3 linked regions of the Homo sapiens genome follow. The protein of the gene in region 1 interacts with the protein of each later gene in a biochemical or structural test. Each region holds a gene or a part of one and is shown in the gene's direction. Other genes may lie near its edges.

Region 1 (7,025 bases):
ACTGCGATTGAGCCTCTTTTTAGCGCTCAGTAGAGCAGGCGCACAGGAAGCAGATGAGAATAAGCCCGTGCTGGTGCGGAAGACTGTGCTATTGAAGTGGCGCGTTGCAAAGGCCTGTCCGTGCCCTCTTTCCTCGCTTAGCTCCTGCCTGCTGCCCGCCGCCCCTCCTGCCCCTCCTGCCCCTCAGGGAATGCTGAAGCCTCTGCCCCTGGCCTGTGCTCTGCTTCTCACTGCCTGTGTCTCACGACCATGGGTGGAAGCAAAACTTGCCTTGCAAGTGAAGCCTCGCTTGGCCATTCTCGTTTCTTCCCGCTGTGGTGCACCTTCTTGGGCTGTTTCTGGATCTGTCTGCATGCACCCACGGCCACCCCCATGCTCGCCTCCACCTCAGAGTAAGTGTTGTGTTTTGCCACGTTTCAGACTACTCCAAAGGATTCGGCGGGAAGTATGGGGTGCAGAAGGATCGGATGGATAAGGTAAATATTCCAGCCCCGGAGCTTAGTGTCTTCTGCCTGCAGGGGCTCTTGGTGGGCGTGGCTCACCGTGCTGGCCAACATCCACGCGCTGGGGTGGGGCACAAGTGATTTCCGTCGTGGTGGTGGTGGTGGTGGCGATGACTGACTCGGACAGTCTTGTGCTCCTCATGGCCGTGCTGTGGGATAGGCGCTGGCACCGGCCCACCTCCTAACTGGGGGCCCCAGGCCAGGCAGGCTCAGCACCTGGCTGCAGCCATAGGAACCCAGATGTTTAACATGAGAGGTGAGAGCCTCGAGGGCTCATGTCCATTTGAACTTAAATTCTTAATAGTAAATCAGATTGGAACCTGAGTGTGTTAGACTGCGTGTGGGGCTACCTCGCTGGCAGCCAGCGCTGCGTGTGCGGTGATGAGCCATGTCTCCCGTCTTCAGCCTCGTAGAGACGCGGGCTCCACACTGCCTGCTCCTGCGCGTGGCCTGTGGTCAGGGGTGGCAGGGTCAGTCCTTGCCTCGCAGCTGACCACACAGCACCATCCAGGGGCGTAGGCAGGCAGAGCAGGTGTTCGGGCTGGGCTCCCCAGGGAGCAGTAGCCTGGGCTCATTTCTGAGGGCAGGCGCGAGTTCACCAGGAGAGAAGGCTCAGGAGACCACGGAGGGGCGAGGTGTGGGCCTGGGTGGGACAGGAGTCACTGCAGGTTCTCAAGGAGCCTAGCTGCAGAGGGAGGGTGGGGAGCGGGGATAGAGCTGGCCCTGGAGAGCCCCACACACCACAGAGCATTCTGCATGTCGTGACATGCGTCACACACCACAGAGCATCTGACGTGCGTGGCCCCAGAAAGGTTAGCAGGCAAGGAACACTGGGGGGGTCTACTTTGAGAAGCCCCCGGCCTCAGCGTGGAGTCTGGGTTGTGGGGGTTGGCCTGGGCAGAGGGGTGTGGTCCTGAAGAGAGCTGGAGGGGCTCGGGTGGTGGAGAAGCAGGGCATGGTGTTTGGCGCCAAGGGACGCAGGGGAGGGAGCAGTCGGGTGGATGTGGGGTGGACGTGGGGCCAACTGTGGAGCCGAAGAACTGGGAGGAGCAGATGTGGGTGTCAGCGAGAGAGAGCTGGGGTAGGGCCGGGGCCGGGTCCGGGTGGCGTGCAGAGTTGGGAGGGGAGTAGGCACGCGGTCAGAGGACACTGGGCAGGGGGACCCAGTGAGGTAGCAGGGGCCTTGCAAGGCACTGGGACAGACGGAGGGAAGGAGCTCCCCTGTGGGTGAGTCAGAGGTTGTGGCTTTGAGGCCGGAACCTGAGGGACTGCCTGTGTTGTGGGTGTCTGTGGTCAGCATTGCTGGTGTTGGCGGTGACCGCTGAGCTTGTGAGCACGTGAGGAGGCAGTGTGTGGGTGTGGCCTTTCGTGTCATTGTCTTTCATCCAGGAGGGGGTGGAGCTTCTCTCTCTGTTTGCTGTGTGATGGAGGAGTCCAAGGCTTAGAGAGGGTGACGTAACTGCCCGGGTCCCCATACATTGTGGGGATAGGGCTACAACCCAGGCTGGGAGGTGAAGTTGCCCCCTCAGGGCAAGGTGATGTCTGCAGAGGGCCCAGTGGGTGATGGGACCCAGTAAGGCTGATGGCCTTGCCTTTGAACAGGTGCAAGCAGCTCAAGGGACATGGAGTAGACGCTGGAGCTGACTGATGGGAGGAGGGAGCGGGGTCCGAGGAAGGACAGGCGGGCCAGGAAGGGGGCAAGCAGGAGGTGCTGGGCAGAAAGGGGCCATGGTATGGGGGCTCTGGTGGCTTCTGAGCCTCAGGTGTTCTCATCAGAGGTAGTGAAACCCACAGTGAAACTGGGTACGGCCACTGGTCTCCATGAGCCCTGACAGTCTCCACCTGAGTCAGCACGTAAGAGTCATCGCCGTCGCTTGGTCAGACCATAGTTGAGTCCCCTGCAATGCAGAAAGGTGTGATTGCACCACTGGGTAGTGTGTAGGACGGGCCACTGGAGGCTTGCATGTGTCCCCAGCGTCTTCGCTTCCTGTAAATGCTCACACCTCTGGGTGGCGACGGAGGGTGGGGAAGGCTTGAGGCTGATCCCAGAATTGGTTTGTGGTAGAGCAGATGGAGATACATGCATTTCTTATGCTAATGCTGACCCACGATTGCCTGCAAATGTGGTTGGTAATAGTTTTCATGCCTCAGTTAGTTTGCAAAACCGAGAGGCCATGAAGAGTGCTCTGGGCTGTGTGGCTGGGCCTTTGGGAAGATCTGGGGAAGGCATTTGCATCTGGCAGGAGCTACCACAGGGCATGGAGAAAAGAGAAAAGTGCTCTCCTGACGCCCATGTCCTGTCTCTGCAGAATGCGTCAACCTTTGAGGATGTCACCCAGGTGTCCTCTGCCTACCAGAAGACAGTACCTGTCGAAGCTGGTGAGTCCCGGCTGATACCAGGAGCACCGTGTGGTTTCCCAGGAAAACACTGAGGGGAAGGACAGTTGTGAAACAGCCAGGAGCAGATGCACCACTAGTTGAAAGCGTGGTTGTTGCTGCGTATTTTTGGGAAAGAAAATGATCGTTCTGATGAAGATCTTGTTTCTCCTGCAGAGGTTTAGAGTCACCTTTTAGACGCAGCATGGTGCAGCCGTTTCAGTGGGGCCCGTTTCAAGGGGCTCTTCCCAGAGCAAAGGGGCTAAGTGCACATTCACAAGGGCCTCCACACTGCCAGTGACCAGCTTCTGGGAGCAGCTGGGGCCTGCCCAACTCCCTGAGCCGCTCGGTCGCAGCTGTGACAGGAGGAAGACATCATGACGTCGATGTGCAGGCGACAGCAGACATTCTCTCTGCTGCTCGTTCTTGGGCCCTTGACAGGGAGCTCGAAACCTGTCCTTTTCTGTGCTGGACACACGATGGAGTCAGATGTGGGCCCTGCCCCGGAGAGTCAAGTAGTTGGGGAAAATGTTATACATACATGAGAGCAAGTGCTAAATTTAACACAGGATGCAGAGAGCCACCACTGACTTCCTTCAGGGGCTATGGACCCACAGTTCTCAGAGATTGAGGGCCCAGGACGCTTTGACACTTTGACCACTCGTGAGAACCCCCAAGATGTTGATGTATTTGATGACATTGACTATATTAGAAATTAGAGGAATGTGGCCCGGCACAGTGGCTCATGCCTGTAATCCCAGCACTTTGGGAGGCCAAGACGGGCGGATCACGAGGTCAGGAGATCGAGACCATCCTGGCTAACACGATGAAACCCCGTCTCTACTAAAAATACAAAAACAAAATTAGCCAGGCATGGTGGCGGGCGCCTGTAGTCCCAGCTACTCGGGAGGCTGAGACAGGAGAATGGCGTGAACCCAGGAGGCGGAGCTTGCAGTGAGCGGAGTTTGCGCCACTGCACTCCAGCCTGGATGACAGAGCGAGACTCCGTCTCAAAAAAAAAAAAAAAAGAGAGAGAGGAATGGTTTATTTATTTATTTATTTTGAGACCGGGTCTTGCTGTGTCATCCAGGCAGGACTGCTGCCTCAGTCTCCTGGGCTCAAGCAGTCCTCTTGCCTCAGCCTCTGGAGTAGCTGGAACTATAAGCGCATGCCCCCTGCCCAGTTAAATTTTTTTTTTTTTTGAGACAGAGTATCACTTTGTCGCCCAGGCTGGAGTGCAGTGGCGCGGACTCGGCTCACTGCAAGCTCCGCCTCCCATCCCGGGTTCACGGCATTCTCCTGCCTCAAGCCTCCGGAGTAGCTGGGACTACAGGCGCCTGCCACCACGCCCGGCTAATTTTTTTGTTGTTGTTGCTATTTTTTAGTAGAGACGGGGTTTCACCGTGTTAGCCAGGATGGTCTCGATCTCCTGACCTCATGATCTGCCCGCCTCGGCCTCCCAAAGTGCTGGGATTACAGGCATGAGCCACTGTGCCCGGCCAAATTTTTTTATCTTTAGTAGAGATGAGGTCTCACTGTGTTGCCCAGGCTGGTCTTGAATTCCTGAGCTCAAGTGATCCACCTGCCTCGGCCTCTCAAAGTGCTGGGATTACAGGCATGAGCGACATTGGAAAGTTATTAATTGGTTCACTTAAAAAGAATAAACCTTGGCCGGGTGTGGTGGCTCATACCTGTAATCCCAGCACTCTGGGAGGCCGAGGTGGGTGGATCACCTGAGGTCAGGAGTTTGAGACCAGACTGGCCAACATGGTGAAACCCTGTCTCTACTAAAGATACAAAAAGTAGCTGGGCATGGTGGTCCACGCCTGTAATCCCAGCTACTCAGAAGACTGAGGTACGAGAATTGCTTGAACCTGGAGGCAGAGGTCGCAGTGAGCCTTGATTGCGCCACTGCACTCCAGCCTGGGCGACAACAGCTAAACTCCATCTCAAAAAATAAAAATAATAATATAACTGGCCATGCACAGTGGCTCATTCCTGTAATCCCAGCACTTAGTGAGAAGACCGGCATTGTTTTGTTTTGTAAATCTCTTTAATAGAAGATGGCTGCACTCTCACATCTGCCTCTGCAGTCTATCGATGTTACGTTGTTTAGGAAGAACATGTGGAATCACCTAGGTAGGCGATTGGGAAAGGGAGGAGTGTTTGTAACCTTGAGGGCAGCGTGGGTGTCCTTCTGCGACGCCGCCCAAGCGTGCCAGGCAGTGGTGGTCCTGCAGGCCGGCTCCTCTGGCCCTGTGAGGGACTCGCTACCCACTGTGCTTGGGCAGCACTGTGTGTTGGTCATTTGGAAAATGCTGGGTCTCTGAGTTGTGCTCGTCTTCCAGTTGTGGACACTTCTCATTCCACAATACCAAAAAAAATCACATTTGCTGTCATCATCTATTTCATCTGCAGAAGCTGAGTGGAAATCAGCATGTTCATGTGGCAGCCTCACATTTTTCAAAATTCTGTCTTTTACTTGAAAGCTGGAATTTTCCCGTTGGCAACAAATACTCCAGTAATTTTTCTTGACACAATAGGCTTAGTTCATTCACTTGGGAGAAAACTGTTGCCAGATACCCAGCTTTGCATAACCATAGTTGGACTGTCAGTTGTTATTTCAGGGAAAAACGCTATTCCATGAGAAAACAGTCAACTTGCAGCTCTCATGGTTCTATTCATGGTCCTTGAGACACAGACAGCCACCGCCACAGTCCCGGACACAGCAGGGAAGGCTCATGTGTCTTCCCACTTTTTTTTTTTTTTTTTTTTTTTTTTTTTTTGAGACAGAGTCTCGCTCTGTCGCGAGACTGGAGTGCAGTGGCACAATCTCGGCTCACTGCAACCCCTGCCTCCCAGGTTCAAGCGATTCTCCTGCCTCAGCCTCCCGAGTAGCTGGGATTACAGGTGCCTGCCACCAAGCCCAGCTAATTTTTCTATTTTTAGTAGAGACAGGGTTTCACCATGTTGGCCAGGATGGTCTTGATCTCTTGACCTCGTGATCCGCCCACCTTAGCCTCCCAAAGTGCTGGAATTACAGGTGTGAGCCACCATGCCCGGCCATATTCCCCACTTTTGACTTAAATTTTTATCATTTTTTCTTAATAGACACGGGGTCTCACTGTCTTTCCCAGGCTGGTCTCAAACTCCTGATCTCAGTCTTCCCGTCTCAACCTCCCAAAGTGCTGGGATTACAGGCATGAGCCACTGCCCTCTTTTCCATTTTTGTCACACACAATATAAAAAAATGTATACTCTGGTTGAGATTTACTATACTCAGTATACGTCAATTACAGTATACATCAGTACCTTAACTGCTTTATCAAGGACAGATGTCTTTAAGGGAAATTGGCTGTTTTTATTTAAAAAGGTGAGTGTGGTGGTGAAGATACCGTCTTATTTAGAGATCTTCCTGATGCCAGGCTTAGGGGGATTGCCAGTCCCACCAGGTACGCAGTGCCCTGCGGCAGGTGCCCAGTGCTGGCTCCGGACCAGTGGGCTGAGCTGGCAGCTGCAAGAACCTTTCCCTCCTTGGGGGTTAGGGGGATGACCGGTTCCTGGGGAGGTCACTCTGTGTGGGTGGGGCTGTTGTCCAGGAGCAGTGTTTTTGCTGTGCTCAAGGCACACGTCCTCCCTCCTTCCTCTATAGTGACCAGCAAAACAAGTAACATCAGAGCTAACTTTGAAAACCTCGCTAAGGAGAAAGAGCAGGAGGACAGGCGGAAGGCGGAGGCGGAGAGAGCCCAGCGGATGGCCAAGGAGCGGCAGGAGCAGGAAGAGGCCAGGAGGAAGCTGGAGGTGAGTGGCAAGGAGTGGGCCGCAGCGCACCCTCCCTGGGACCTGTGCCGAGGGGATTGGGAGCTCTGGGGCCTGGGCGGGGCTTATTCTCTCCTGGCCAGGTTTTCCTTGGAAGGCATGTTTAACTCTCCTTTAAGGCTCTCCATTAAGGCACTTGTCACTTGCAGCCACACATAGGCTGAGTCTCTGGCCACAATGCTCCAGGCAGCCGGCTAGCGCTATCCTGGTCTTGCCGGTCCAGCCCCAGGACCCGCCAACCTGCCCTGCCCTCTGTCCCTGAGCTGACGGCAGAGTCTTGTCGGCTTCCACCTCCACGGGGCTCCTGTCCAAATGTCAGCCTGAGTC
Region 2 (7,025 bases), on another chromosome or scaffold:
TAATTTAGAACTAATCTTAAAAACTGGAAAAAGGCAGGGCGTGGTGGCTCACACCTATAATCCCAGCACTTTGGGAGGCTGAGGCAGGCGGATCACCTGAGGTCAGGAGTTCGAGATCAGCCTGGCCAACATGGTGAAACCCCGTCTCTACTAAAAACACAAAAATTAGCCGGGCGTGGTGGCGGACGCTTGTAATCCCAGCTACTCGGGAGGCTGAGGTAGGAGAATTGCTTGAACCCAGGAGGCAGAGGTTGCAGTGAGCCAAGATTGCGCCACTGCACTCCAGCCTGGGTGTCAGATCGAGACTCGGTCTCAAAAAAAAAAAAAAAAGAAAAAAAAAAAGAAAAAATTGACACATGCCTAATAATTATCAATACAGTTATAGACTCAGTTTAATAAATAAAGGAATAATGTCTCTCAACTAGGACAACCTAATGATAAAAATGAATGGCTGAGGAGATATACAATACTTGTTTGTTTTTCACTAATTAGAGCTAGATTTTGATTATTTATTTAGAGACAGAGTCTCTCTCTGTCACCCAGGCTGGAGTGCAGTGGTGTGATCATAACTCAGTGTAACCTCGAATTCCTAGGGTCAAGCAATCCTTTTTCCTCAGCCCTCTCAAGTAGCTGGAACTACAGGTGTGTGCCACCATGCCTAGCTAGTTTTTAAATTTTTTGTAGAGACAGGGTCTCGCTATGTTGCCCAGGCTGGTGTCAAACTCTGGGTCTCAAGCAATGGTCCTGCCTTGGCCTCCCAAAGCACTGGGATTATAGGTGTGAGTCACCATGCCCAGCTTCAAGTTGTTTTTTGTTTTTGTTTAAGTTAGTTTTTTAAAAAGTATGTTTTTCTTGAGTGCCAGCTGTTTGGAAATAGTAAGTTTATTTTGACTATGGTATATCATCGTTTGAATATATAGCTGATGTTTGTTATTCAAAGTAGATGTGCCAAAAAGTTCTTGAGAGCGCTGAATTAGTGAACACTGAGCTAGCTATTGCTCCTAGGGGAAATACAGTATTAGGTTTCTTTGAGCCTCTGGTAACATTTTTGTTATCCCATTAACATATACCCTTGTTTCATGTGTGTTTCTTTTTAAAGGCACTGCATTTAGTATATCATTTTAGTATATTCATTTATATTCAATAGCACTAGAACACATGTCTGAACAAAGCTATCTAACTTGCTTTTTCTCTGTAAGACACATCACAGCCTCCTTGTGTTTACTAGCCAGCACTTGAGCAGTATGCTTGGGGGCCATTTTAAATAATGAAATCACTAACAAAAATATGAAAACCGTGCCACTAAATAGAACTGTGAAAAGGACACTTGTTTATAGTATGAGAGCTGAAACTAGATAGCAGAGTATCATCTTGTTCAACCTCAATGGGGAATGTGCACATCAGTGGACTCAAATTTTTGTTGCTCTACACGTGCATGTCCATGAATAACCATATTTTGATTTGGGGAGTAACAAATATGTTTTAGCGATTAGGTAAATTCACAAATATGGAATCATGAATAATGAGATTAGACTACATTTATTTATTTCATCCCCTATTGATGGACTTAACGGGTTTTTCCTCTTAGAAACAAGGCTATAGTAAATATGCATATGTAATAGCATACATGTTTGGGGAGTTTCTTCAGAGTTTGTTGTAAGAAGTGGAGTTACTGGTATGTGCATTTAAAATTTTATTAGCTATTTGTATTAGTCCGTTTTCATACTGCTAATAAAGACATACCTGAGACTGGGCAATTTATAAAAGAAAGAGGTTTAATTGGACTTATGGTTCCACGTGGCTGGGGAAGCCTCACAATCATGGCAGAAGGCAAGGAGGAGCAAGTCCTGTCTTACATGATGGCAGCAGGCAAAGAGAGAATGAGGAAGACGCAAAAGCAGAAATCCCTGATAAAACCATCAGACCTTGTGCAACTTATTCACTCCATGAGAACAGTATGGGGGAAACCACCCTCATGATTCAATTCTCTCTCACCAGGTCCCTCCCACAACACGTGGAAATTATGGGAGTACAATTCAAGATGAGATTTGGGTGGGGACACAGAGCCAGACCATGTCACTATGTTACTATTGCCAAATTATTCTCCATAGTGGTTACATCAGTGTATACTCTCACAGCGTTATATGAAAGTTTCCATTTACCCAGATTTTTGCCAGCTCATAGTATATGTATGACTTTACATGTTTGCTATTCTGATAGTTATAAAATGGTATATATCATCATAATTTTGAGTTTTCTCTGATTTCAGTGTCTTCAATCTGAATCTGTTAGAGACCAGTATTAGTGGTTTCTAAAAGGCCTTTTGTTTTTGAACTGAAAACTTTGTTTAACCTTTTATTGTGATATTTGTCAGTAGTGATATGATCTCTATTATATATCCAACTTATTTTTCAGTTTGCTAATCCAGACTTTACACAACCTATCTCAGAAGTTGTAGATGAAGTAATTCAGAATTGTCCTATTGATGTCAGACGTCCTCTCTACAAGGTATTTATAGCAAAATTGTTATTCAAGGTCTTACTTTAAAAAAACTTAAACACCTCTCATAAAAAGGATATAATAGCATTTCAGTACTATATATTATATCTTTAAACTTTTCTCTTTTTAAATATTATATTTATTTTCTCTCCACTAGAATATTGTCCTCTCTGGAGGTTCAACCATGTTCAGGGACTTTGGACGTCGCTTGCAAAGAGATTTGAAAAGAACTGTAGATGCCCGGCTGAAATTAAGTGAGGAATTGAGTGGTGGTAGATTGAAGGTTGGTTTTCCCAATTATTGGTGAGAAGGTTGAGGGTGCCTTCCTTGATTAGGATGAGAAATATTTGCCAGCATTCACTCTGATTTAGAAAAATAAGAGGAACCTGTCAGGTATTCTAATGGAAATGGTTAATGTTATAGATTTATGTCTGTGATATTCTGGATCATTTGATTCTTCTAGGATATTGTCTGTATTTCTGGAAAATAATTCTTAGTAATACCTGTGGAAAGACTTTTTTTTTAAATACCTCTCTCATAGATAATTAATATAGTAGATTTCTTTGCATACACCAACAATCAAATTAATTATGGATCCACAAAATGTTTTATACTATAGAAGGACAGCAAAGCTGAGTTGAGATTGATGCCATTGTTGAGTAGTCAAGCCTGCTCTCAAAAACTGACTTTAGCTCCCACATAGCAACCTCAAAGTGTGCAGTCAAATCGGTGGTTTAATAAAGTAACCTTTGTATTACATGTCCTGGACCTTTAGGCTTGAGGTTAAAAAAAATCAAAATTAATTTAAAATTCTTAGATGTCTACTTTCTATATTTAGAGATAGATTCTTCATTTTTTTCATCCTTGTTAAATATTGAAGCAGAACGTTGATTTAGAGGAATGATATGGCTTTTTTCAAAGCTGTTTGAAAAAAGGTATTTCATGTGAATAAAATACCTTCTGCTTGGAAGATTACCAAGAATGAGGACTTTATCTGAGACTTCCATAATCATTCAGAATTACTTAAAAGTAAAGCACAGCACTCTAGGGTTTGCTGATTGTTGAGAAATTGCATGATGGCTGACTGTTGTCAGTGCCTATATTTTGATTATCTTGAGTAAACCTATCCCTAGGAATGCAGTAAAAAGTATATGTTTTGGGTGGAAGGCAAAATATTGAACTCTGTCCCTATAATGTCATGACTTCACACTTCAGGAAGTCTACTCAATAGACTTTTAAAATGTTGTGTTTGCTTTTGCATCCCCTTCCCAACCAACCAAACCACCAGCCCACCCCCATTCATCCATTCATTTGCCCATCCGTCTACTCCCCTTACCCACATATCTATCTACCCTACCTCCTACCTAAAAAAGAAGTCATTGGGTTTTGCAAGTATAAATTCTCTGTACTGAGAATCCTACTAACCACATTGATTATGTGAATGAACATAGTGCATGTTCTGGTTTTTTTGTTAGAATACTTAAAAGATTGAAGTTGATTGTCCTAATGGTATGGTTATGGATGTATTAAAGTAGCTGTTTAGTTTTTAATAACTCATTACAGATATATAAGTACAAAACAATGCTGTATGTTTCTGAGTATAGTATTTTAAAAAAGTGAGATTGTTTAACATTTTTAAGCTCTTTTTACACTTGTAAATAAGAAATAAATTTACCCAGTGATCAGTACCGTATCGACATATTGAAAGAAACAGATTGGGTGTCCCTTTTTTGAATTGCTTCATACCAGAAGTGTTGCAGGTTTTGAGTTTTTCTGGATTTTGGAGTATTTGCATTATATACTGGTTCAACATCCTTAATCCAAAAATCTGAAATTCTGAGCATTTCCTTTGAACATCATGTTGGTGCTCAAAAAGTTTTTGGATCTTGGAGCATTTTGGATTTTCAGACTTGGGATGCTCATCATGTATAGGAAAAACCTTGTGTTTTGGAGGACTCTGCCTTCTTCACCTTAGTTTTACTTGCTAGTAACTTTTATAGATCTTAATAGCATGCCTTTATCTATCTATCTCTGGCTTTATTTTCCTTCAGTCTGTAATTTTTAATGGCAACCAAACAGTTTTGAAAAAAGCCATATCATTCTGTTTCTATAAATAGGTGTGTGTACACACACACACACACTAAATTGTAGATATGATGGTTCATTATCCCCAAACATTTTAGTATATTTCTAAAATCAAGAACATATTACAATTATCAAAATCATGAAATTAACCTTGATCCAGTGTTATCTAGTTATAGAACTGATTCTAATTTTACCGGTTGTTTCACTAATGTCCCTTATAACAAAAGGAAAACAAAATACCTTCTTCCCCCTTATCCAGGATCCAATCAAGGATTGCATGTTTCATTTACTTATTGTGTTGCTTCAGTCTGTTACATACTCAATGTTTTTTGTCTTTCATGAATGAATGTGACATTTTTGAAGAGTACAGCCATTTATTTTGTAGCATATCCTTCAGCTTGGGTTTGTTTAATATTTCTGCTTGAGTAGGTTCAGATTATGTACTTTTGGCAGTGATGCCACAGAATTGATATTGTATCATTTTTAGTGCATTGTATCAGTAGACACATGATAGAATTTGTCCTGTGTGTGAATTTTGAGCTTTTGGTTGAAGTTGTGTCTGCCAGGTTTTTTCACTATAAAGTTATTATGTTTTCCTTTATATTTAATAAGAATCTAATGAGGAGACACTTTCAGACTATCCTGTTTCTCTTTTAAGTTTCAGTCACTAGTTTTTAGCATCCATTGTGATTCTTCCCTAAAACAGTTATTACTGTGGTAGTTGCTAAATGGAGTTTTGCAATTTCTGTCATTCCTTCTATGTTTTTAAGACTTGTTTTACTATAAGCAAGAGTTTTCCCTTCTCCCACATTCATTTATTCTTTTAGTAATATCTATATGAACTCCTGATTTCTCATTTTGTGGTCTATATCTTTAATATCACTGTAATATCATAATATCAGTAATACCACTCATCATTAATTTTAATCCCACATTTTTTTTTTTTTCAGATTTGACCAGTGGGAGTTATTCAAATGGCTCTTAGGTTTTTTTTTTTGATGCAGCCACATCTTTTTTTTTGCCTACTTCTGTACTTCCCGGCACAGCAAGGTGTTTCAGGCTGATCTTGTACTTTCTCTTTTCTGGCCCTGGAATCAGCCCTTTTTTTCTCCTTTTCTTTCTTCAAGACACCCTTGTCTTATTCCTGTTAGTGGAGAACGTTACTAAGAAACCAAGCTTTGTGCTCATTGCTGTTGGGGTATCACTGAGTCTAGGCCTTCTCAGTGATTAGAGCTAGGGGTGTGTGTGTGTTTATACATCTATATCTAATTCTCTACATAAATTAAAACCATGAATTTTTACAGACGTCTCCAGTTATAGAAGGTTCACTCTAGTTTTCTGCCCTTCCATATTGTAATGCCCTTCTCTGACAGTGAGAAACCTGGCTCCTATTATCTATAATATGTTTATGTTTTTGCTTAATCCTGGAATATGTATATGATAGTTTCAGAATTGTTAATCCACACCACTGTGAAAAATAGACCCAAAACTAGAATTCAATATTTGCTTATATTTTATCTTCAGCCTGAAGGCTTATAAGATTCAAAATACTATGCTCACAAGTTGCTTGTGTTAGTCCCTTTCCTCACCTTAGTGTGCTTATGTTTGAAAAAAGTACAATTAGTTTAATTTGTTTTTGTTGTACTTTGTTTTGCCCCAACCTCCCCTTCTTTTAAGGTGTTATTTTTTAGTATGTAAAACACTAACATTTAGATTCTTAAAGTCAGAACTGTATAAAACATGTGCTCATTGTTATTTCCCTTCCATTTATTCTGCTCTGTTCCCTCCCTGTCTCTTCCACAGTGTTCCCAACCCCTTTCCTCTGAGACAGCCAATCTCAATTGTTTCTGGTTTGTAAGATACCACCTGAATTTAGTACAGATATTATTTTTGTATATGTACATTTAAGGTTAAATGACACAGAAGTTGTTATTTGAATTTACTATGAAGATGATCATACTATGTCTTTCTTTAGCCAAAACCTATTGATGTACAAGTCATTACACACCACATGCAGCGATATGCAGTTTGGTTTGGAGGATCAATGCTGGCTTCCACGGTGAGTGTGATGAAGCTTACTTTTATTTTATTTTATCATTATTATTTTATTTATTTTTGAGGTGGACTTTCGCTCTTGTCACCCAGGCTGGAGTGCAATGGCATGATCTTGGCTCACTGCAACCTCCACCTCCTGGGTTAAAGTGATTCTCCTGCCTCAGCCTCCCAAGTAGCTGGGACTACAGGCATGCGTCACCACACCTGGCTAATTTTGCATTTTTAGCAGAGACTGGGTTTCATCATGTTGGCTAGGTTACTCTTGAACTCCTGACCTTGGGATCTGCCCACCTTGGCCTCCCAAAGCAAAGTGTTGGGTTTACAGGTGTGAGCCACTGCTCCTGGCCTTTATTATTATTATTATTTTTTATTGAGATGAGGTCTTA
Region 3 (7,025 bases), on another chromosome or scaffold:
CCTGAAAATTAACAATAATTATTTTTTTAATCTGCCAAGGGTCTGTCATTCAAAGAATTCTTTAATATCATTAATCATTCTTTTTGTTTGAATAAATGCATAGGAGGCTATAGCTGTGTGTTCTTTCATGGGTACACTATTGATTACACACACAGATGTGAAACACTGTGAATATATTCAGTGCATTCTTCCTTATTAACAAACGTGTGTAAACAAACAAACAAAAAGAACATGTCCATGCCCTTGGATCTCCCAGCTCCCCATCTCTCAGTCTCTGAACTCCAGCAGCAGGGAGACAAACTGGATAATCCTTAAAATACTGTTGTGAAGACAAGGAAAGCAGATGATCTAAAACTAAGTAGTTAAAAGAAACAAGTAACTTTGTTGTATTGGTGATTCAGTGAGTTGGCTCTTCAGAAGGGATTTTGTGTGCATTGACCTGGATCTGTACTGGATTTCTCCAGAAAGGAAACTTCAGCTTATCTTGGGTGCCCCCTTATCCTGCTCAGCATGAGACAGAGCACCCTGGGGCCCCTGGAATCTCAAAGTCTACTTTCTAGAAATTCATTGAAGTCTCTTATTCTCTGACATCCTTTCCACTCTCTCTTTCTGGGTTGCTGTTTGTTTACAATTTCTTTACTGTATTTTGAATGGGGTAGTAGGAGGTTGAGGAAGTAAACCTGTGCTATCAATCCACCATTTAACTTGAAGGTGGTTGAACTTATTTTGAATTTCCCTTCTGTTTTCTTTTTAAACTTAGCTTGAGTGCTAGTTCTGCTGTTTATTGACTTTGATGGCTCTCTTTTAGAGTCAGCTTTCTTCAGATCTTTTCTTTCTTCCTGTCTTCCCCAATGATATTTTTTTCTTTTCCTTTCTTTTTTTTTGAGACAGAGTCATGCTCTGTCGCCCAGGCTGGAGTGCAGTGGCCCGATCTCGGCTCACTGCAACCTCCGCCTCCTGGGTTCAAGCAATTCTCCTACCTCCACCTCCCAAGTAGCTAGGATTACAGGCACGCGCCACCACGCCCAGCAAATTTTTTGTATTTTTAGTAGAGACAGGGTTTCGCCATGTTGGCCATGCTGGTCTCGAACTTCTGGCCTCTAGTGATCCGCCCACCTTGGCCTCCCAAAGTGCTGGGATTACAGGTGTGAACCACTGCGCCCAGCCCTCTGGTGATAATTTTTATGTCCTACTGTGTTTCTCTTCCTCTAATGATTAACTTACTAAAAGTTTAGAACCAAGATTTATCTATCAATGTCAAAAATAAAACAATCATCCTCCACCTACTCAACACCAGAGCTTTTGCTTGTTTTTATTCCCCAATTCCAAGCTCTTTTCCCTCAATTTTAAGAATCTTTCTATATCACTTGCATTAAATTTCACAACTACATTATCAACCCATTAAAATGTGACTCTTAAGTTTGTCTAGATTCAATGCATACCACTATTTCTTGCATTTCCCTAAAAAAGCTGCCTTAGATCCTCTCTGGAACAAAGCAGGGGGTAAATGACCAGATAGAAGGATGGATGGATGATAGATTATTCATTTTGCTTTCCCCAGTCAGAATTAAGCCCTCCCATGGCCCCTTGCTGGGCTTTCTGTCAAAACACGTGCATCGCATCTTTTCAGTATCTGTTTTGCGTGTCGGTCATACTCACCCCTCTGAGTGCTCATTCTCTCGCCTATAAAATAGAAGAAGTAGTAGAGGTGGCCTGTAAGGCATTGGGGAGGAGGAACTGCCCTTTCACTGGCCTCATGACAGCCCCAGCCAGCACCCCCGCTCTAGTTCCACCCACAGAAGCAAGTCTCACCCCTACCCCCCAGGTCTCTCCACTTCCTGCTAGAGAATCACCCAGCTCCCCAGCCTGGCTTGAGGCTCTTTTCAGCCTTAGCTGGCTCCCCGCAGCTAAGAGCCCCATGCTCCATTTGGGCCTCCAGTGTCACAGGGTTTGACCTGCTGTTACTACTACCTTTGTCATAGGGGCAGGTAGTGGGCGGACATGATCTAGAGTACCCCACAGAGTCAGGAGCCCCCATGATCTGAGATAGACCCTAGAGCTGAGCCTGAAATTGGGTGGGCACTGAGGGGGCAGCGATGTTTGCTGAGGGAGAGGTTCTGGTGAGAGACTAAATGAATGAGCGAGTGAGGTAATGGATAAATAAAGATAAGAATGAAAAAATGGTAAGATGATTAAATTGGTGACTGAATGTAAGGGTAAATTAATGGAAGAATGGATTCATGGATTAAATAATTAATGGGGAAATTAATGAATGAGAGAATGAACGAGTGGTTGAATGGGGAAATGAGTGGTAGAGGAAACTGGCAACTGTTGGGTTGGGGGTGTCTATGGGGATTGACTTCTCCAACTCTCTTACCTCTTTTTCTTCTGCCCCCAGTGTCCTCTATTTCTCCATCCACCGCTACGAGCAGGGTAGGTTCTGGCCCCACCTGAAGGCCTCTAACTGGTCCACCACAGGTTTCGGCCAAGGCCAAGGATATACCATCAATGTGCCTTGGAACCAGGTCAGCATCTACCCACCTCTGCCCCCAAAGTGAGGCCCAGCCCCGCCCTTCTGTCAGCGGCTCGGGACAGGTGGCTGAACATCCCCCATCACACTCCTGTGTCTGCAGGTGGGGATGCGGGATGCTGACTACATTGCTGCTTTCCTGCACGTCCTGCTGCCAGTCGCCCTCGAGGTCCTGGGGATCTGGGGTGTGTTGGGAGGAGGAGTGGCCTTGAAGGTTAGGCTGTGAGGGTAGGTAGCCTCATGGAGTCTGTTCCCCCTTCAGTTCCAGCCTCAGCTGGTCCTGGTGGCTGCTGGATTTGATGCCCTGCAAGGGGACCCCAAGGTAAGGCAGGCTCCCTGGGGCGGCAGGTGGGTTGCATGGAGCCAGGCTGACCCTCCATGTCCCCCCAGGGTGAGATGGCCGCCACTCCGGCAGGGTTCGCCCAGCTAACCCACCTGCTCATGGGTCTGGCAGGAGGCAAGCTGATCCTGTCTCTGGAGGTGAGTGACTCACCTTCGTCCCTCAGCCTGTGGATCCTGGAGGGCTTAAGAACGAAGCTTTCAAGTCCAACAGGAGTTCCTGGCCCAGGAATTCACTTACTAGCTGGACAACCTTGCATAAGTCACTTCACTTCTTTGTGCCTCCGCTTTCCTTCTATAAAACGAGCATAATGTAATCACCTCATATCATTGTCCAGTGAATTCAGTGAGGCACCCTTCTAAGTTCCTTGTTGCTTGACATGTGGTATGCACTCTCTTATTATCATCATTATTATTATTCCCTGGTCATGTCTGGTCCTTTCCTGATCCCCCTTCACAACTCCTTGCCCCAGGGTGGCTACAACCTCCGCGCCCTGGCTGAAGGCGTCAGTGCTTCGCTCCACACCCTTCTGGGAGACCCTTGCCCCATGCTGGAGTCACCTGGTGCCCCCTGCCGGAGGTGAGCCCCGGTGGAGGAGGGGAAAGCGGGAGCCTCACTGCCCGCCCACATTCCTTGACATCATATTTTCTCCCTGCCCTGCAGTGCCCAGGCTTCAGTTTCCTGTGCTCTGGAAGCCCTTGAGCCCTTCTGGGAGGTTCTTGTGAGATCAAGTAGGAAGTGGGGTGTGGGCCTGGTGTGGGGTGGACGTGGGATGAGCCCTGGGGGAGACTGTCTTCAGACTTCCTCTGACTTTACTGGGCTGCCTTGGTGGGAGAGGGTCAGGCCCTCTCTCTCTCCCTGGGCCCTGGTTTCAGGCCTCCCACCCCTTTTTCTGTTTGGGTCACCTGAGTTCCAGAGTATGACGGGGATTCAGATTGAGAGGGTAGGACAAACGTGGCCTCCCCCTTTTAGCTGAGACCGTGGAGAGGGACAACATGGAGGAGGACAATGTAGAGGAGAGCGAGGAGGAAGGACCCTGGGAGCCCCCTGTGCTCCCAATCCTGACATGGCCAGTGCTACAGTCTCGCACAGGGCTGGTCTATGACCAAAATATGATGAATCACTGCAACTTGTGGGACAGGTAGGCATTTGGAGGGCTGGATGAGTAGGTGTTGGGGGTCCCTCCCCCTCAGGCACTAAGCCTCTACCTCTCGTTTCCCCACTGCTAGCCACCACCCTGAGGTACCCCAGCGCATCTTGCGGATCATGTGCCGTCTGGAGGAGCTGGGCCTTGCCGGGCGCTGCCTCACCCTGACACCGCGCCCTGCCACAGAGGCTGAGCTGCTCACCTGTCACAGGTCAGACCCCGGTGCCTGGGGTGGGTGGATTCCCAGGACTGTGGATGAGGTCTCAGGGGCTGGAACTTGGGTTTCCCCTCCTGGGGAGCTGCTGCAGGACTTGAGAGGGGCTGAAGTCCCTGTCTTAGGGGTGGGGACCAGGGAGGGGACAGACCCTCCTCACTGTCCTGCGGGTGCTCCTCTCTGTGCTTCCAGTGCTGAGTACGTGGGTCATCTCCGGGCCACAGAGAAAATGAAAACCCGGGAGCTGCACCGTGAGAGTTCCAACTTTGACTCCATCTATATCTGCCCCAGTACCTTCGCCTGTGCACAGCTTGCCACTGGCGCTGCCTGCCGCCTGGTGGAGGCTGTGCTCTCAGGAGAGGTGTGTCCTCTGTGGGCTGGGGAGAGGAGGACCTGGGGGGAATGGAAAAAGAGAGCCATCTGCTGTTTCTGGAGGCTCTGAGAGAGTCAAGCAGGGCCTGAGGAAAGGGGCCATGGGGAGGGGCACGGGAGGGGGTGGGCCTAGAGGCTGGGGGAATAATGGAAGGAACTGGAGAAAGGGAAGGGTGGCCAAGTGCAGTGGCTCACGTCTGTAATCCTAGCGCTTTGAGAAGCTGAGGTGAGCTCAGGAGGTCAAGGCTGCAGTAAGCCATGATTGCACCACTGCACTCTAGCCTGGGCAACAGAGTGAGACCCTGTGTCAAAAAAAAAAAAAGGTCCGGGCGTGATGGCTCACACCTGTAATCCCAGCACTTTGGGAGGCCGAGGTGGGCAGATCACGAGGTCAGGAGATCGAGACCATCCTGGATAACATGGTGAAACCCCGTCTCTACTAAGAAACATACAAAAAATTAGCCGGGCGTGGCAGCAAGCGCCTGTAGTCCTAGCTACTCAGGAGGCTGAGGCAGGAGAATGGCGGGAACCTGGCAGGCGGCGCTTGCAGTGAGCCGAGATGGCGCCACTGCATTCCAGCCTGGGCGACAGAGCGAGACTCCGTCTCAAAAAAAAAAAAAAAAAAGGAAGAAAGGAAGGTGAGGGCAGGCTGTCCGATCTTAGCACCCTGCTGCTTCCCAGGTTCTGAATGGTGCTGCTGTGGTGCGTCCCCCAGGACACCACGCAGAGCAGGATGCAGCTTGCGGTTTTTGCTTTTTCAACTCTGTGGCTGTGGCTGCTCGCCATGCCCAGACTATCAGTGGGCATGCCCTACGGTAAGGACTCCCTGGGGACCCCCCAAATCCTGATCCTTGTGGGGACCTGGATGCTCCCCCCAGCCCATTGTTTACTCATGCCCCATGGTCCAGCTCCCAGGACTTCCTTCCCCAGAAAGAAGTAAGGGTGCAGTCCTTACCCAGAGAAGGACCGAGGATGGAGCCTCTCAGTGCTTATTTAGATAGGACCCCCAGATCATGTTACCTGGGCACTTACAAAACAGGATCCAGGGTCCCACCCCAGCATTTCTGGCCTATAGCAGCTGCCTCGACAGAACCCAGGTCTAGGCTCCTGATGCATACTCCAGAAGACCCACGAACCAGCCCCCAGCATTAGCTGCCCAAGGCCCAGGGTCCAGTTCCCTAGCAATGACCCAGAAGAGCCCAGGGCCCAGCCCCGAGCACTTGCTCAGGCCTACCGGGCAGCCCTTGGGAACCAGGATCAGACTTTTCTCCTTAACTGATAGGACCCAGGGTCCTGCCACTCAGCACTAAATGCCCCTGCAGACCCCAGGGGTCTAGCCCAGCCCTCTTCCAGGGCGTGAGTATCGTCGGTTACTGAGGTGCTGTCTCCTCCCCAGGATCCTGATTGTGGATTGGGATGTCCACCACGGTAATGGAACTCAGCACATGTTTGAGGATGACCCCAGGTAAGGGCTGCAGTCAGGGGCCGCAGTGTGATCAGGGAGGCGGGTGAGCACCTCAGGGGTACTGGAGCCCCTAACCAGCCATGGTCCGCTTCCCACCCCCTCCCTGGCAGTGTGCTATATGTGTCCCTGCACCGCTATGATCATGGCACCTTCTTCCCCATGGGGGATGAGGGTGCCAGCAGCCAGATCGGCCGGGCTGCGGGCACAGGCTTCACCGTCAACGTGGCATGGAACGGGCCCCGCATGGGTGATGCTGACTACCTAGCTGCCTGGCATCGCCTGGTGCTTCCCATTGCCTACGAGGTACAGCTCAGGATAGATCGCAGGACGTATGTGACACGCCTGTGCAGGTGGCAGCCTGGACCTGCCTCCTTGGCATGTGTGTGTGTGACTACCATGTGGCTGATGATATGAGACAGCGCATGGGTGTTTAATGAGGCTACCAGGGCAGTTGGTGGCTGTGATCACCTTGTGTATTTGTGCACAGATGGCTGTACATGACTGCCTTCTCTGTGTGACACTGTGTGAGTGACTGTCTTGGCTGTGTGTGTGAGGGCCTTCTGACTATGCACCAATGGCCCGTGTCCTGGCTGGATCTGTGTTGTATGTGCGTGCCATCACAAGTGCTTGAGTATGTGCGTGTGCGACTCTGTGCAGGCAGGTATTTCTCACCTTTTCTCTGTGTGATGGGTGTGATACTGTATGTCACTAAATGCAACCATCTCTGTGACAGCCTGTGTGGGACCTTCTGGATGTGGAAGGCTGTGTGTGACAGCAGTCACTGTCTGGCTGTCTGCCCTGGCTGTTTGTGTGTATGTCTCTGACTGGGAGGTAGCTGCCTTCCCTCTGTGTGAGCTAGGAGGCTGGTGGCTTGTGTATGGCTGACTCTGGGAGGGAGGGAAAGGGTGTGAGCACCGCTCTGTCACCCTGGGCGCCGGTGTGCATCTTTGGATCTGC

What was found. The genes of interacting proteins can lie anywhere in the genome.
Region 2: the proteins of CTTN (region 1) and ACTR3 form a complex in vitro, tested with the Homo sapiens proteins (3 studies listed by BioGRID).
Region 3: the proteins of CTTN (region 1) and HDAC6 form a complex in vitro, tested with the Homo sapiens proteins (3 studies listed by BioGRID and IntAct, with this or other methods).

What each region holds. Positions count from the first base shown.
Region 1 is NC_000011.10:70,422,520-70,429,544, forward strand, and holds part of CTTN (src substrate cortactin), read left to right. Parts: coding exon of another isoform or gene 1-33; exon of another isoform or gene 34-420; coding exon 421-476; intron 477-2,812; coding exon 2,813-2,882; intron 2,883-3,177; coding exon of another isoform or gene 3,178-3,260; exon of another isoform or gene 3,261-3,568; intron 3,569-6,531; coding exon 6,532-6,680; intron 6,681-7,025.
Region 2 is NC_000002.12:113,949,064-113,956,088, forward strand, and holds part of ACTR3 (actin-related protein 3), read left to right. Parts: intron 1-2,415; coding exon 2,416-2,508; intron 2,509-2,656; coding exon 2,657-2,782; intron 2,783-6,559; coding exon 6,560-6,643; intron 6,644-7,025. UniProt on the Homo sapiens protein: ATP-binding component of the Arp2/3 complex, a multiprotein complex that mediates actin polymerization upon stimulation by nucleation-promoting factor (NPF).
Region 3 is NC_000023.11:48,812,042-48,819,066, forward strand, and holds part of HDAC6 (protein deacetylase HDAC6), read left to right. Parts: intron 1-2,398; coding exon 2,399-2,525; intron 2,526-2,633; coding exon 2,634-2,699; exon of another isoform or gene 2,700-2,792; coding exon 2,793-2,852; intron 2,853-2,920; coding exon 2,921-3,010; intron 3,011-3,342; coding exon 3,343-3,449; intron 3,450-3,533; coding exon 3,534-3,601; intron 3,602-3,842; coding exon 3,843-4,011; intron 4,012-4,099; coding exon 4,100-4,228; intron 4,229-4,423; coding exon 4,424-4,592; intron 4,593-5,284; coding exon 5,285-5,418; intron 5,419-5,999; coding exon 6,000-6,068; intron 6,069-6,178; coding exon 6,179-6,371; intron 6,372-7,025.